Linked DNA regions of Homo sapiens: region 2 is linked to region 1. Evidence: fine-mapped expression QTL. A gene starts in region 1. The other region holds a variant in brackets. All regions are shown on one strand. Distances are between the middles of the regions.

What was found. PIP is the estimated chance that this variant, and not a neighbour inherited with it, causes the effect.
Region 2: its variant is the best candidate, but not a certain one, in a credible set for the expression of MGRN1 in whole blood (TOPMed, PIP 0.72).

The regions. Positions count from the first base shown.
Region 1 is chr16:4,623,279-4,626,172 of GRCh38, forward strand. It overlaps MGRN1 (mahogunin ring finger 1), which reads left to right and starts at 1,548. Exons shown (of 17, transcript NM_015246.4): 1 at 1,548-1,770. The coding sequence starts at 1,683. RefSeq lists enhancers at 1,210-1,319, 1,277-1,807, 1,330-1,624, 1,808-2,337, 2,868-2,894 and silencers at 1,390-1,569, 1,810-2,039.
Region 2 is chr16:4,695,992-4,698,885 of GRCh38, forward strand. ANKS3 (ankyrin repeat and sterile alpha motif domain containing 3) reads right to left here. Exons shown (of 18, transcript NM_133450.4): 13 at 2,809-2,894; 14 at 2,436-2,608; 15 at 1,986-2,071; 16 at 1,342-1,425; 17 at 1,026-1,113; 18 at 520-905. The coding sequence ends at 1,037. Among named protein-coding and RNA genes, the nearest start is that of NUDT16L1, 3.9 kb to the left of the region's middle. The variant CA/C (reference allele first, on the strand shown) is at 1,615.

The DNA.
Region 1 (2,894 bases):
GCATGATGCCTGGCACATAATGCTCAGTAAGTGTGGATCTTGGTTGTGGGGCAGGGAGATTTAATCAGGCTCCTCCAAGACCTGGACCTGCATCATAATCACACAAGTCTCTTGGCTGCCGTACTCATTTGGCTTCCCAAGTTCCCCTGACAAGAGGAAGTCTGAGGCCAGGTGCAGTGGCTCATCTCTAATCCCAACACTTTGGGAGGCCAAGGCAGGCGGATCACTTGAGGACGGGAGTTCAAGACCAGCCTGGCTAACATGGTGAAACCCTGTCTCTACTAAAAATGCAAAAATTGGCTGGGTGTGATGGTGCATGCCTGTAATCCCAGCTACTGGGGAGGCTGAGGCACGAGAATCGCTTGAACACGGGAGGCAAAGGCTGTAGTGAGCTGAGATTGTGCCACTTCTCTCCAGACTGCGCGACAGAACAATTTAAAAAAAAAGAGGAAGACTGGATCCTGGACTGTGGTCTCTGGAAGGGTATAAGAAGCATTTCCACATGGACTGTGGTGAATTGACCATTGGAGACTCAGTCTGCCTTGCCCTCCCTAGCTGCTTTCTTGGTACAGCAGGCTTGACTTGGGAAATCACTCTGCTCAGAATCCAAGTTCCTCAACTGAAAAGTAGGTAAAAAGCGATCTATTTGCAGAGCTGTGTGTGACTCAAAAGCCAGGGAACACCTTGCACACTGCGAGGTTTTCATTCTGAAAGCGATTCTTGCAATCTTGCCCGCAGCGCCATTTCATGCGGCTCTCTCTCCTCTGTGCCTCAGTTTCCCTGTGTGTAAAATGTGGGAGAGTCTACTGCCTTCCGTGGAGGCTGTGAAATTATGTCTTTAAACTAATTGGTCCAGACGTGGGGCCAAAGTATCGGGATTACAGGTGAGCCACTGCACCGGGCCTCAGCCTTGTCAGGGGGCCGGAGGTTGCTTAACCCCCTGGATCCCAGCTTCCTCATCTGTAAAACGGGCTGATGCCTATACAGCTCTCAGAACCACACCTGGTTCAGAAGTCCCCAAATGGTAGTCCTCAAATTCTGGCCAAGGCCAAAGCAGGTGCTTCACTTCTTCCGTGCACACCCTGCAAGTGGGCTCCGGGTGGCAGGTGCAGCTACGCCCTCTGCCGGTCGGGGCGGGAGACAAACTCAGGGGAGTGGGGAGAACCACAGCGACTCAGGGAGCTATTTCAGAGGGGGCAAGTGGAAGGCGCTGGGGCTCCAGGAGAGTCTGTAAGCGAACAGATGAGGAAATGACCAAAGAGTTAATATGTTAGTGCAGCGCTTGGAACGCAGAGGGAAGGACCATTTGCCCTGTGGTTGGTTGGTTCCTTCCCTCTGAATTTAGGTCCATTTGGTTTGTCCCGGAGTGCTTGTCAACCCGTCAGAGGGCCTGGGAACGGAGCATCCTGGGAAAGATAGTTCCCAGACGGGCTTCCCGCGCTGCTTCCCGGCGCCTTCGGCGGCGAGAGGACTCCATTTCCCGACGTGCCCCGGGACCGGGAGGCGGAGGGCCGCCGTGGCGTCGGTCCCCGGGCCGAGCCGGGGGTGGGGGCTCGAGGCGCCTCCGCGGCCGTGGACGAGCGTCCGTGCGGCCTGGTCCGGGCCATGTCCGCGTGAGGACCCCGCCGCTGTCGCCGCTCCCGTTCCGGCCCTGGCCCCTCTGCCCGGCAGCGCCGCGCACCATGGGCTCCATTCTCAGCCGCCGCATCGCGGGGGTGGAGGACATCGACATCCAGGCGAACTCGGCCTATCGCTACCCTCCGAAGTCCGGTGAGCGCCCGGCCCCAGGCGCGGACTGCTAGGCACGCGCTGGAACGCGGACCCGGCGGGCGCGGGGGCGGGGACTCGGGGCGGGGCGCCCTGCTCGGCCCCCTCCGGGCCTCGTTGCTACCCCGAGCCTTCGCGCGGCCCCACGGCCCCGATCCCTAGGCGTGGCTGGGGGCCCCGGAGGAACCTGCCCGAGCCGTACCTGGCGCTGCTACTGCCCGGCTTGGGTGACCTTGGGGCAGTCCCTTCGCCCCGGGCACCTCAGCTCCGTCCTTGCAACAGGGGGGAGCTCCTGGGGGAAACCCCGAGGGCGGGGCGGGGTGCTGAGCGCGGGTCCCGGCGCATCGCTTCTGCCTAGAAAACTCTCATTGTCATCAGATTGACCTCACCGCGGGGGCCGGCTTTCGCTTTCTTTAGTGGCTTGGTGTGAAGGCCGAGCCAGTGGTTTGGGCAATTTCCCTCCCATCAGGACGGAGGCTCTTGGTGTGTGGGTTGGAGGAGTGGGGCTGGGCCCAAGGAGACGATTATAGTTGATCGGGAGGGGCCAGGGTCCTTGCTGAGAGGACCCAGCCGATACTCGGGCCTCTGTGTTATGGCTGAGGGACGTAAGACACCAAGGAGGAAGTGACTGCCAAGATCTCAGCTGGATGGAAGCATAGTTGGGACCGGGACCAGCTGTGGGGCTCCCACGTAGCTTTGTTCCCAGCTCTCTTTCTGCCTCTATTGATGAGTTATGTGTTGACTGGGAGCATCTAGCTCCAAGTCTCACCCTCCATCTCCTCGTGGGGTTCTTTGTGGTGGAAAGGAGAGAAGGAAGAGGAGAGAGAACTTGGGCATCATGGGGACATCTAGATTGGGTCCTCAGATCCTGGCGTCTCATCTGATCTGATGTCTCAGTCTCCTGGGTGTCTCCGGACACCCACAGGCCAGATTTCTCTGAGTGTGGGCCAGGTCCACAAGTGGGGGAGGACTGCTAGACATGCCAGGGCCTGCCTGGGACCCCTTGGGGCCTGGGAACCTGCATTTTCAACCCATTCCCCATGTGAGTTTTACGTCCACTCAGGTTTGAAAAACTGCTCTGCCCAGGTTTTGTAAGGTGTGACTAGGTGAGGGCCTGGGGCCACTGG
Region 2 (2,894 bases), 73 kb after region 1:
AATGCTGTGCCCATCAGCCAGGTTGGGGCGTCTGGGCCGAGACCTTCAGGGCAGGCTCCCCTTCCTGATCCTGGTGGCCCTGGCTGCACCTGGGCTGACCTGCTTTGCTTTGCAAACCCACCATTCCCCACTGTCTGCAAGCAGCTCCAGGGGATGGTGTAGAAGTGCAGGCTTACTGTGCAGAAGGACAGCAGCAGAGCCATCCCTCGTGGTCTCCTACAGCCCCACATCTGGAAAGACTCCAGCGGCATCGTCAGAAAATTTGCACAGCCCATGCCTGGCCCGGTGAGGGAGGCAGTGTGCCCAGCTCCATCTCAGAGCTCGGTGTGAGAGCAGCATGTCCCGGGGGAGGCCCTGTGCTACGGCGGGCTGGGGATGTTCTTGGCTCTCAAAGCCTTATCTTGAGTTGTCTGGGCTCCAGGAGCAAAAGACACACCCCTGAACAGCAGAGGACAGGGCAGTCAGGGTTGCTGCATTGGCCAGTGCCTCATGTCATGTGACCAGAACTGAGCCCTTCACTAGCTGTTCTTAAATTTTATTTTCCAAAAAATGGCATTTTCCAGGTGCCCCAGTCCTCATTCCTAAGGTCCCACCTCAGTTGGCACCTGTGCGTGTATATGGATACACTTTCCCCCCAGGGCCCTGCCTGGTATGGGCCAGGGCAGCCCATGAACTCTGGGCCTCACCACGAGGTTCTGGGTGAGGCCCTCGTCCCGCCTCAGTGCTGGCCCGAGCTGCCGAGCCAGGGCCGCAGCCCCCGTCTTGCCTCTGTCTGCCGGCTGCTCCCGGGGCCTGATCCTCTGGCCCCCACTGGGCCTGGGCTGCACATGGCAGCTACCTGCTCACTGTCCTCCTCACTCCCTGGCACACAGCTTCAGGGTGGACCAATCACCCAACGTCAGATTCTGAAAGAAAAAGCCCCGGTGAGAAGGGAGGGGGACAGGTGGGTGCATACCCACACCTGCAGCCGCCCAGACAGGCCCTGCTGCTCCCACCACGCGGGATCCAGGCTGGCAGACACTCACCGGCCCGCAGGCTAGGTCTCCCGCCACTTCTTCCCGTTCAGCACCTGCAGCTTCTCCAGGCTCTGGGTCACTAAGCACAGTGCTTGCCCTGAGGAATGATGACCTTGAGCCTCTCCCGGCCAGGCTCAGGAGGGCTGGGTGGTGCTGCCCCGGGGTCTCAGCTGCAGGATGTGACCTGCCCCTCACCCGTTATGGCCCCAGCCCCGAGGTCAGCCTTGGGGTAGAGAGACACAAACCCGCTTTCCCTGGAAAGGGGTCCCTTTGCCTCCCTCGGAAACAAAAGGAGCGCTCAGTCGTCTGGTCCCCGGAGACTCACCCATCTCACGGACACGGTCCTCCAGGGCTCCCGAGAGCTCGGGGAGGCTCATGGCCTGCAGGGACGCTTGCCAGCCCTTGGAGTCTGTGGTGCAGGTGCAGGGACCGAGTTAGCTGGGGGTCTGCGTCCCCACAGGCCCTGCTTTATTCTGAGCCCATGCAACCAGGAGAACCTGCTTGGATCAGAACCTCCCTACCCGCCTGACAGTGTCTAAGCAACCTCCCAAGGCCGAGGCAGGGAAGCCCTGTTGTGCCCTTCCTCCCACAGGCTGAG[CA/C]AACACTACGAGGCCCGGGTCAGCCCGAGAGAAGGCAAAGCTCTGCCGGTGGGGACCCGGGTCTGGGCCCTGGCTGGAGGCTACAGAAGTCACTGGCGGTCTCAGCACAGCACAGCCAGCCAAGGCACAGGGCCTTTCTCGAGTACCTCCTACCCCTGGGGGATAGGCAGTTTTCCTGTCACAGGTGAGGAAGTGGGCTTGGGTCCCCAGGGCCCCCTCTTTTCCTTGGACTCTGGGATCATGTGCACACAGGGACCTGGGAGAGTGGCTGCCGGCCGGAGAACCAGGCCAAGCCCACTGGGTCAAACCTGGCTTCAGGGCTCCCCCACCTTCCCCTCTGCCCAGTGCGGAGTCAGGCCACTGCTCTTACCAGCTGGGGGGACGGCTAGGCCCAGAGTGGCTGCACCAGGGGGCTGGTCCTGCCTCACTCGAGATGACAGCTCAGCTTGACAGGCTCTGCCAGACACAGAAACAAATATTGGTGAGAGCAGAGGCCTGGCCGCTGCAGAGCCCCCACCTCAGACCTTCTAGGGGAGGGAGGGGCTCAGCCCTGTCCTTGCAGCTGGCCCTCATGGGCTGGGCCAGTGCCCCATGAGGCTGCACTAAAGAGCAGGAGGGCGACCGGTGCAGATTCCCGGACCCAACTCCTGCCTGGGTCTGCCTGCAGGAAGGAAGGGCCTGATGAAATGGGGGTGGGGTGGCTCCAGACCCTGAAATCCACCCCTCAGTTACAAAATCAGGAGGAAAGGATGTGTGGGGGCCCAGGGGCCAGGTGGCTGACCACTGGAGACCCAGCCCAGGGCAGCTCAGAGCCACTCACCGCAGCTGGTCCAGGACGAGGGCAGCATCCCGGGCCAGGGCCCACGTCTCCCGCAGCCGGGCCTGGAGGTCCTCGCGGGCGCGGTCCTGCTCCAGCAGGCAGCTCTCCACCACGGCGCGCAGCTCCTGCTCCTGACACACCTGGCCCCGCGTGGCCTCTACCTCCTCGCAGCGCTGCAGGGGGGTGGGGGGCGCGGGGAGGCTGGGAGGTGGCCGGTCAAGCCAGACCCTTGGCCACGGCCCTGTCCTGTGTGTGGGGCCCTCTCCCCACTGCATCCACCTGACCCCTCCACACAGCACCCACCTTTTCTGTCAGAGATGGAGCCAACTCACGGGTGTCACCCTGCCCCCCCATCCCCCACCCAGCCACTCACCTTGTGCAGCTGGATGGCGAGCTCCTGCATCTCAGCCTCCAGCCGGTCGGCGTAGGCCAGCTCCAGGGCATCCCCGGGTGGGCGGG